Linked DNA regions of Homo sapiens: regions 1, 2 and 4 are each linked to region 3. Evidence: fine-mapped expression QTL. A gene starts in region 3. Each other region holds a variant in brackets. All regions are shown on one strand. Distances are between the middles of the regions. Region 1 holds the start of LOC124900217 (collagen alpha-1(III) chain). Region 2 has its middle 23 kb from the start of NHSL1-AS1. Region 3 holds the start of NHSL1 (NHS like 1). Region 4 has its middle 35 kb from the start of CITED2.

Evidence for each region.
Region 1: its variant is fine-mapped to the expression of NHSL1 in whole blood (INTERVAL, PIP above 0.99).
Region 2: its variant is fine-mapped to the expression of NHSL1 in whole blood (TOPMed, PIP 0.98).
Region 4: its variant is fine-mapped to the expression of NHSL1 in gastroesophageal junction (GTEx, PIP 0.95).

What each region holds. Positions count from the first base shown.
Region 1 is chr6:138,691,453-138,694,139 of GRCh38, reverse strand. It overlaps LOC124900217 (collagen alpha-1(III) chain), which reads right to left and starts at 1,414. Exons shown (of 2, transcript XM_047419637.1): 1 at 1-1,414. The coding sequence starts at 1,377. The coding sequence ends at 448. NHSL1-AS1 (NHSL1 antisense RNA 1) reads right to left here and starts at 2,472. Exons shown (of 4, transcript NR_033896.1): 1 at 2,172-2,472. It also overlaps a transcript of NHSL1 not described here. RefSeq lists silencers at 626-765, 806-865, 1,346-1,695, 1,706-1,755 and an enhancer at 1,878-2,687. The variant A/G (reference allele first, on the strand shown) is at 1,103.
Region 2 is chr6:138,713,500-138,716,186 of GRCh38, reverse strand. No RefSeq gene overlaps it. Among named protein-coding and RNA genes, the nearest start is that of NHSL1-AS1, 23 kb to the right of the region's middle. The variant T/C (reference allele first, on the strand shown) is at 1,534.
Region 3 is chr6:138,498,028-138,500,714 of GRCh38, reverse strand. NHSL1 (NHS like 1) reads left to right here and starts at 1,221. Exons shown (of 8, transcript NM_001144060.2): 1 at 1,221-1,482. The coding sequence starts at 1,425.
Region 4 is chr6:139,338,691-139,341,377 of GRCh38, reverse strand. It overlaps the pseudogene LOC100129844. Among named protein-coding and RNA genes, the nearest start is that of CITED2, 35 kb to the left of the region's middle. The variant G/A (reference allele first, on the strand shown) is at 1,179.

The DNA.
Region 1 (2,687 bases), 190 kb before region 3:
GCCGTAAAACAGAGGAGCAACCAGGGTCAACTGGAAAGCAGAAACCAAAGAACCCAGATTCCTTTTCTGAGCAAACACAGCGATGGGCCAGTGGGATTTTAGCTTGGGGATATTGGACCCAGTCTTCTCAAAAACTTCCTACCAGAAGGTTTGTGTTAGCGGGTGTCCCATGACCACGATCTCAATAGCATGTGGCTTACATATCTTCCAGGCTCGAATTCAGGGTTCTAGGTTCTAGTCCTCCACCCCTAACTAACATGCTTGGTGGAAGAAACTCAGATTAGTCACATTTCAGCTTGGACCTTTCCAGCTGTAGTAGCAGGCAGCCACAGGGGGAGTCACCTTGCTGAAAAAAACTCACTGGACGCCCCCTGAAAAGAGGTCTTGAGTTGTTCCGAGTCGGACGCTGACTCCTAGTCGGCTACAGAACCCTTGGCCACCGGACATTTAAAGACGTTCTATTTGAGGTCCACCCGGGCGGCCCAGAAGTGTTGGCCACCTTCCAGAAGGGAAGTAGGAGAGAGCAGGGGGACCCCGAGGGGCCCGGGGCGTTCCCCGCGGGGCGGGGCGCTCCTGACTGCGGAGCGCCGTGGGCAGGGGCGCAGGTGAGCAGAGCGAGCGGAGCTGGCCGCGGCCGTCCTGGCGCCTCCGCCCTCCCGGCGCCCGCACTGCGCTGCACCCCGGCCCGGGGGGCGGGCGAGGGCTCTGCCCCACCGCCCGGGGGCTGCCAAGGGGAGTTGGGGCGGCGACGTGGGCGTCCCGGGACTGTGCGCCCGCACCCGCCCCGACAGGGTGCGCTGAGGCGCCGGGGCCGCCACTGGCTGCGGGCGCTGGGCGCGGCAGCCGCGGGAGCCGCAGGTGGTTCCCGGGCCGGCCCTTTTCTCCTCCCCCTTTCCTTTCTTTCGCCTCCCCTCCCTCTCGCCCGGTGTCGGCGGCACTTCCCTCGCTTCCTCCTCCCTCTCCAATCCGGAGGGAGGGAAGGAGCAGCCGGCGCTTTCCTGCCCGCCTGCAAACTTCAGCGGGACTCGCGGCTCCCCTCGCCGCCGCGGCCGCCGCCGCCCAGAGCTGCCCCTGGAACTTCCTCTCGCCGCGCGGCCCGCGA[A/G]GCCCTGCGGGTGGAGGAACGCCGCCGGGCGCCAGGCAGCCACGGCTCGGACCCCATTCCTGCCCCGCGCCGCCCGGGTGCCCGCTCGCCCGCGCGCCCGTCCGTCCGTCCGTCCTTCCTGCCCGCCCGGCCTCTCCCCTGCGGGCAGGGGCCGCCAGGCTTCCCTCGGCGCCCCGCCGCTGCCCGGGACTTCCTTTGTGTTGGATGCAGGCTGGCGCCCCGCGCCGACGGGAGGCAGACTGAGGGATCCCGCGCCGCCGGCCCGCCCCCGCCATGCCCTTCCACCAGAGGACCCTGGAGCCCGCGCGGCTGCGCCGGCCCGAGGCGGCGGGGGCCGGGGCTGCGGGCGCGCCACTCTTCCGCTCGCTGGAGCAGGTCAGCTCGCATGCCCTGGGCTGCCTGCTGGCGCAGCTGGCCGACCTGTCGCGCTGCGCCGGGGACATCTTCGGCGAGCTCGAGGGCCAGGCGGCCGCGCTGGGCCACCGCACCGCCGCGCTGCACCGCCGCCTCGACGCCCTGCAAGCCGCCGCTGCGCGCCTGGACCACCGCCGAGTGAAAATCCGTGAGTGGCCGGCGGGCCGGGGGAGGGGAACCGGCGGGGGAGGCACCCGGAGAGCTGCTCCCGCCCGCCCCCTGGCGGCCCTGGGTCGGCGCGGGGGCCGCGGAGCCCCGCGATGTCGGGGTCTCCAGTGGGGACTGCCGGACCCCAGCGGGAGGCTGGGCAGGTGGCAGGGGCGCAGAGCGCTCTGTGACTTTCGGACTCCTGGAGGGTCTTGGCTACCTCGAGAGAGTGGGCGCGGAGGGTGGGAATTGGACAGTCCCCTTGTCTGCTCCTTCTGTCTGTCTGTGTCTGTCTGTTTGGGAGACCCCGGGGCGCTGTAGACAGAGGAGAGCCAAGTTCGTGGGAAAACTGTCACAGGCAGGTAGCCTGTTGGAAAAGCCAGGGGAGAATATAAATTTGGGCATATAGTAGTTACAGTTTTGGAGACTTCAGGACGATCCGTTTGTAAAACCCTGGGGATCTCGGCGAGCGTTGGGGCTGCTTGCCACCTCTCTTCCCGCCGCCTACCTGTGTTCTTACCGACAAGCAAAACTATGCAGACTTTAAGGGTTTTCCCATTTGGCGCAGAATTTTCTTTCTTCTCCCAGACTGACCCACCAGCTCTTTGTGATTCAGAAGACGTTGACCTTGAGTTCAGGCTCTGAATCCCATTCATCTTTGTCCGGCTTCCTCCAACCCTGAAAGTCAAGTCTATGTCCTGATATAGTGATCTCTCCGGTGATCCATTTCATTTCAGCAGCTTAACTGGCTCCGGTGAATGAAGCAACTGGAATTTCCTGCTGGCCCAAAGCAGAGAAACTTTCAGTGTGATGTCTCTGTGGTTTCTCCCTTTTAAGTACGTGAACTTGGTCATAATCCTAAGTGTAAAGAATAAATTGGAGATGGTTGATGGATTGCTGGGTGGGAGGGGAGATGTTGATGTAACACACGCCTAGATTTCAGCAGCTCTGGATGAAATAGTTTTTTCTCCTAGAATCACTTCATATGCAATCTCGAATAGCTCGTTTTCCAGCTAGCTAGAAA
Region 2 (2,687 bases), 220 kb before region 3:
TCTAGCCCCAGTCTAGCAACATTTAGGCAATGCTGCCAGGACTCATTTTGCTTCTCAATTTCACTCTTTTACTGCAGGGCAACTTCTTTATTTTAAGAGTTCTTTGTATTCTAATACAAGTCCTTTATTAGATATGTGCTTTGCAAGTATTTTCTCCCAATCTATGGTCTGTCTTCTATTTCTCTTAACAGTATCCATCAAAGAGCATTTTTAAATTTTGATTAAGTCCAATATATTAGTTTTTAAAAAATGGATCATCATTTTGGTGTTGTATCTAAGAAATCACTGCCTAACCCATGGCCACAAAGATTTTCTCCTATGTTAGCATCTAGAAGTTTTTTAGCTTTAGGTTTTACATTTAGGTCAATGATCAATTTGGGGCTAATTTTTGTATATGGCACATGGCATGGATAAAAGGTTATTATTATTGCATATGGATGTTTTATTATTCCAGCACCATTTTTTGAAAAGATGATCCCTTCTCCACTGAATTGCCTTTGCACCTTTGTTGAAAATCAGTTTTCCATTTATGTGTGGGCATGTTTCTCCACTCTCTTTTCTGTTTCACTGATTTATTTGTCTACCTTTACTTCTATCTCACACTGTCTTGAACACTATATCTTTATAGGAAGCATTGAAATCAGGTAGAGTTAGCTCTCCAACTTTGTTTTGCTTTTTCAAAGTTGTTTTGGCCATTCAGGTCTTGATATGGTTTGGGTCTGTGTCCCCGCCCAAATCTCATGTTGAATTGTAATCCCTAGTGTTGGAGGAGGGGCCTGGTGGGAGGTAATTGGATCATGGGGGTGGACTTCCCCCTTGCTGTTCTCATGATAGTGAGTTCTCACGAGATCTGCTTGTTTAAAAGTATGTAGCATTTCCCCCTTCCCTCTTTCTTCACAAGCTCTGTCATGTGAAGATGTGCCTGCTTCCCCTTCACCTTCCACCATGATTGTAAGTTTCCTGAGGCCTCCCCAGCCGTGCTTCCCGTACAGCCTGCAGAATTGTGAGTCAATTAAACCTCTTTTCTTCATAAATTATCCAGTCTCAGGTAGTTCTTTATAGCGATAAGAGAATGAACTGATACAGAAAATTGGTACCGGGAAGTGGGGCATTGCTATAAAGATACCTGAAAATGTGGAAGCATCGTTGCAACTGGGTAATGGGCAGAGGTTGGAACAATTTGGAGAGCTCAGAAGAAGACAGGAAGATGAGGGGAAGTTTGGAACTTCCTAGAGACTTGTTAAATTGTTGTGAACAAATGCTGATAGTAATATAGACAGTGAAGTCCAGGCTGAGGTGGTCTCATACAGAGATGTAGAACTTACTGGGAGCTGCAGTAAAGGTTGCTCTTGCTATGCTTTAGCAAAGAGACTGGCAGCTCTAGGGATCTTTGGAACTTTGAACTTGAGAGAGATGACTTAGAGTATCTGGCAGAAGAAATTTCTAAGCAGCAAAGCATTCAAGATGTGGCCTGGTTGCTTCTAACAGTATATACTCATATGCATGAGCAAAGAGATGACCTGAAATGGAAAC[T/C]TAGATTTAAAAGAAAAATTGAAAGAACTTCAAAGAAAATAACTTTCTCAAAATTTAATGAAGCATCTGTGCACCAAATAAAATCCTGTCACAGACTGCCAGAGATTCTGTTTCAAACTTTGGGAAACATTGGCATGATGTTTCCCAGCTCTTGAGTCCAAGTTCTTGAGGCCAGCAGGCTACGTTTAAATCTAGGGTCTTTCCCTCAGGTACTAGCCGTTTGCTGCTATGCTTCCCCTCTGAATCTGTTTCCTTACCTGCAAAATAACAGTACTAATAAAATTGCCTGTTTGTAGATATAAAATGAGATGAGGCATAAAAAGCCCTTGGCATAATCCCCAGTAAATGGTAGGTGCCTTGAAAATGTCAGTCATTTTTAAGGCAGGAAATCAGTGTCATAACTCAAAAATATGGGCCCTTTCTGTTATGGTCAGCTTTCTACTCTCCATTCTTACCCTCAAGTTTGAGACACTTGGCCTTGACTTAATCTCTTCACTCTCAAGGTGTAAAAGCACTTCACCAAACCTTTTATTTCAACAATAGAATCAGGACCATGACTCATGTATAAGTGACTGTGCAAGTTGATCTGGGTGGGATTGTGAGCCAGATCATCCAGAGTCAGTCTTCGCTTGCCATAATTGTCATGGTATCATTACTAACAGATATTTAGGGGTGAGCACCCATTATGGGTAAAACTCCATGACAGCTTCTGGGAGCACTATTCTAGATGGTCATAGTGAGCTTTTGGCTGGATGTCTGCAACACACTCTAAGAGGCCAACTGGAAGCTGTGGACCAGGCAGACTAGAGCCACTTTGCAGTGGAGAGGCACAAACTACAAGGAATAAAATTATAGGTTGCTAGAATTGTAGTCTACATTTCCCTTTGGCTGCCTGTTTGTTTCTCGATATAATTTGAGGTGTTGACTATAGACCACAAAAACCTAGGTGGTTTTGGGTACCAAGCTGTCTTATGAATTACCTTTCTCTCTTTCTAACTTCCCGGTAGCTAAGATTAGCAAGCATGGTTGGGATTATAATTGCTGCATTTAAACTACAGAAAGACTGTTCTTTGATGAAAGATTCTCATATTTCATAAATGTTCTAGTTTGATAAAACTTTAATGTCCTTACCAACAGGTCATAATGGACATGTA
Region 3 (2,687 bases):
AATAAAGGGCATAAAAAGACCTGAGAAGGAATCATTTCAAAGCTTTCCCTAGACAGAGCCCCTTATATAAATTTTATTCTTTGACTAAGAGCCTTTGTTATAAACTAAATGTTTTGAATTAGTGGATTATTACATTTTTCCATTGAGTTATAAGTCTGGCCCAAAGCTATGAAATAAGAGGTTGTCTAAATTGTTTCAAAAGTGTTTGGCCATGAAGTGGAACTGGGCTGAGATGTGAGGAAGATTCTTTTCCTTTTTCCGTTGTCATAGTATTTCCGGATCTATATTCTCCTCTTTTTTCCTATCCCTTTACCCCTGGAATATGTTTTTTCAGTGCCTTCTTATACTCTGTTTCTGATTTCTCTGTCTCTACTTGTGCTTCCCTAGTTCTCTGTGGTTAATTGCCAATGGGCAAAAGAACCAGCACTCTGGATGGTAGATTCAAGTTAAAGAGTAACTCAGATAATGTTTGTTTGAGACAACATTGAGGGAAGGGCGATTATGGAATTCTGAAAACCAGGAGCCTAAGTGACAATTACATATAAAATAAAGATTAAAATGATTAGGGTACTTTATCTAATTTATCATTTGGAGTGGGGAAGTTGTATTTTTTTTGGTGGATTTTTTTTTTTCTTGATTGTTGTGGCAGCTAGATGCAAATAAGATCATGCTTTGGAACACACAATGCTGATTCTCAATCACTGGCAAAGAAGGGTGAGAAGACAGAGCATCCTAATTTGCACAAAAATGCAACCAAGTCATCATTTGCAGCTCCTTGGAGATTCTATTCTAAAGTTTTACTGCTTGTACAAGTTCCTTTGGTATCGGAGGCAGAGCCTGGGGCGTGGTTGGGAAACAATAGTTTGGTTTTTTTCCCCCCTAAATCAGTTCAAATCCCATATACCCTGAATTAACTGGAATTGCTGTCAGACTTGGCAGCTCCTGTAAAAGATCTGGGTGTTCATAGGGGCCTAATGAAATGGGGAACACATTTGTTTCATCTTGACTTCCGTAGAGGAAAGTCTGCACTATTTTTGTGGGCTCAGAGAGGAGGAACTTCTGATCTGTTGGAGAGAAAACTGAATGAATGGGCACTGAGGCAGAAAGCCTGATGTGGCTGTCATGCAAATAAGAACCGTGATTGGCTTTCTCTTTCTTTCAGCGCACGATGTCACTGGCTGCTCTCAGCCTTAAAGATTAGGTTTCAGTAGGAGTTTTTCAGGTTCAAGGACTGTTAATGGTTTGTAACTGCCTGACAATAAACTCAACCTCAGTTACATCAGCCTGGGCAGATGTCTAAGGATATGAGACCGGGGGAAGAAAAAGTTAGAATCTGTAGCAGAAGGACGAAGCTTGCCACCTGCCTACTGGGCTGAGCTTTTAATGTGATTTACATTTCTAAGCTCTATGTAGGTGCCCTGGAAATGGTGGTCTTCATTAATGCAAAGATTAAGTCTTTAATTAAACTTTTTAAGAAGAAAAGTAAGTAGTTCCTTTTCTCTCTACTACCTATTGTGTGCATATGTTTCCATATGTGTATATGTCCCTGTGTGTCTGTGTGTGTGTGTGTGTGTGTGTGTCCATGTGTGTGTTTTAGGTCCTTCGTTCTTTTGTGTGAAGAAATTAGAGTGTGAAACAGCGTAATAGGCATGAGTTAAACTCTACTCTATACCAGGTTGTTTAAATACCTCAGACTTTTGTAACTCTAGGACAGTATTATGTGATCTTAGCATGTCTTATTTATTTATGATTGGGGTTTTAAGTGAATTCACTTCTTCTGTGCTTTTCAAAAGAAGTCCTTTGAAGAGGGGGGAAATTCTTGTACTTAATTTATGTTTCCCTTGATATCAAGTGTATGATTTTTTGATTCTTTGGATAAATATGCAGCTGAGGTAAGGGAGCCTCTGTGTAATGTATCACATATTTCTGGTGGAGATAATCCCCTGAAACTCCCTGGCACTCTTTGTTGTGTATTTAAGAGCTCGAGCACAAACTGTCTAGACTGATCAGTGATTGTTGTAAGGTACAGAACTTTTGTGATGTGGCTTTATTGTGTACTTACCATTGACTTACATTTCTTTAATGTAGGTGCTTCTTCATTCTCTTGAAAATAATAATTTTTATAACTACTTGGCTTTGTTTTTACATAGTCGGTGGTTTATTTTATTTTAGTTTAGTTTAGTGTTTGGACCAGTGACTTATACTGGATAAATGAACATGGGTAGGGGCATTGGTAAGAGGAGCTTTGGAGAAAGCTACAAAGAGCAGCACGGTGGGCTGATTTTCTGCAGCTCCTTGCTAAAGGCTGCCTTTGGATGAACAGATTAAAAGTGGCCCTGGCGAGAGTGAGGAACACGAGGGGAAGAGACTTTTTCATAGGAGCCAGTTGGTAGCTGTGCAGTGGGGCCGATGGTGCGATTGATGGTGCAGACACGAATGCCATTACTTGGATTTGATTTGAAATTGTCGAATAGGAAAAGTTTCCATTTTCAATAGTTTCTAACTCTGAAGTATGGTAACTCAGTCTTTAAAATAAATGGACATCAGCACAAAACACTGTGATGAACTCTGGCTACACTTTGGGGGGACATATGGTGAGTTTGGCCCAATGCTAGATTCTTCTGAAACACAAATGAGGGTTAAGTCAGGTCTTTGTGGATTTTGTGTATTAAGATTGATAGTTGTAT
Region 4 (2,687 bases), 840 kb before region 3:
CATGTAATAGAAGTCACTGAAAAAGAAGAGAGAGGGTAACAGAAAAAAATGGGAAGAAATAATGGCCAATAATTTTCCAAATTTAATGAAAAGCATAAATCTACATATTCAAGAAGCCCAATGAACCCAAAGCACAAGAAATGTGAAGAAAACGACACTAAGGCACATCATAATTAAATTTTCCTAAACAAGTGATAGAACATTGTAAAGCAGAGAAAAACATCACAATATATTTAGGGAAACAAAGATAAGAACTATAGCAGATCTCGTATAAGAAAAAATGCAAGTGAGAAGACAGTGACACACAACATCTTTAATGTACTGACAAAAAAATTATTAAACTGTCAAACTAGAATTTTATACCAAGCAAAATATGTTTCAAGAACTAAGGTGAAATAAAGACTCTTTCACATATACAAAAGCTGAAAATATTTATCAGCAACAGACTTGCTCTATAAGAAATGTCAGGCTGGGCGTAGTGGCTCATGCCCGTAATCCCAGTGCTTTGGGAGGCCAAGGTGGGTGGATCACAAGGTCAGGCAATCAAGACTATCCTGGCCAACATAGTGAAACCCCATCTCTACTAAAAACACAAAAATTAGCTGGGCTTGGTGGTGCGCACCTGTAATCCCAGCTACTCAGGAGGCTTAGGCAGGAGAATCGCTTGAACACGGGAGTCGGAGATTGCAGTTAGCTGAGATCACGCCACTGCACTCCAGCCTGGCAACAGAGTGAGACTCCATCTCACCACAAAAAAAAAAAAAAAAAAAAAAAAAAAAAAAAAAAAGAAATATCAAAGGAAGTTCTTCAACCAAAGACATGAGGAAAAGGGAAGAAAAAGAAGAGATGGGTCAAACAGAAAACAAATGGCAAGATGACAGACTTGAATCTATCAATTATCACATTAAATATAACTTTGTCAAAACATCTCAATTAAAAGTCAGAGATTGTCAAACAGAAAAGAAACACAGGGCCGGGTGCGGCAGCTCACGCCTGTAATCCCAGCACTTTGGGAGGTCCAGGCTGGCGGATCACCTGAGGTCAGGAGTTCGAGGCCGGCCTGACCAAACCCCGTCTCTACTGAAAATACAAAATTAGCTGGGCATGGTGGCACATGCCTGTAATCCCAGCTACTTGGGAGGCTGAGGCAGGAGAATTACTTGAACCCAGGAGGTGGA[G/A]GTTGTGGTGAGCTGAGATCGCGCCATTGCACTCCAGCCTGGACAACAAGAGTGAAACTTCGTCTCAAAAAAAAAAAGAAAAGAAAAGAAAAGAAAAAAACAGAAGACCAAACTATATGCTGCATATAAGAAATGTACTCTCTCTCCATATATATTTTCTTTCTTCTTGATCAGTCTAGCCAGAGATTGACCAATTTCACTGATTTTCTCAAAGTAACTGTTTTTGGTGTTATTCATTTACACACACACACACACACACACACACACACACACACACACGTTAGATGTTAAAAGACAGAAAAAGATAATCTAGCTAACCTTAACTATAAGAAAGTTGTAGTGACTATATTACTACCAGACATGATAGATTTCACAGCCAACAATATTACATGGGATTTTTCAAGTTTATTTCATAATGATAAAAGGTCATAAACAAATCTAAACATTTATGCACCTAATAATAAAATACATTGAGCAAAAAACTGATAGATCTACAGGAGAGGCAGACAAATTATGGTTTGAGATTTAAATATTCCTCTCTTAATAGAAATGATCTGCTGATTACATTTAAACTGAGCGACTCTGCATTTTCTGGATTCTGGATGGTTGCCTTTCATGAGCCCAATCGAAGAAAGAAAATCCTTGGACCAGATGCTTCACAGCTGAAGCCCGTAGGACCGCGGAAGAATACCTTGAAGATATTGTTTGCATCAAAATCACCCAAATTTATGTCTTCCTTATCCAGGTCCTGCCCACTGTGATAATGAATCGTTTTCTTGGAATCAAAGAGGATGATAAAGACCTCGCCACTTCCTTGATCTTCTCCTCCTCCTTTTGAACCCCAGCGCTGGCTCCATCATGACGATGTGGATGGTACTTCAAGGCCTGTTTCCAATAAGCTTTCTTGATCTTGTCCTCAGAGGCATTCTTGTCACTTCCAGAACCTTGTAGTAATTATCCCTCTTACTCTTCTTCAGTTCCAGCTGTGCATTTTTTAGGAGCTGTTTGTATTCTTTTGTTTTCTCCATCTGATATACTTTTTTCATAGCCTCGCACTGTTTCTTCATACTGTTCTGTGTCCAAGAAACACTGAGCTCTTCTCAAGTAGGCTTTTATGTAAGTGTCATGAGCTTCACTGCATTTGTGCAGCTGTCTATTGCATCATCTAGTTTCCCAAGCTCGGAATTAACCATATCCCGGTTACAGTAGAGTTTAGCAATTGCTTTTATGTTGTCGGGGTCTACCCCGGGGGTTCTGCGTACAGTTCATCAGCTAGTTTGTAATTTCCTTCCCTAAACGCTTTATTCCAGTCTTCTTTCTTTGCGTTAAGTGCTCTGGCATTTCTGCACGCAAGGCAGGCCTTCTCATGGTCAGGAACCACTCTGAGAGCCTGTACAAAAAACTGAACAACTGCCTACTCAGTACAATCTTCATAATAAAGGCAAGGTCCGCGTACATACAGAGCATCCACATTGGTGGAATCCGTTCATAAAATGTCACTGGCCACAG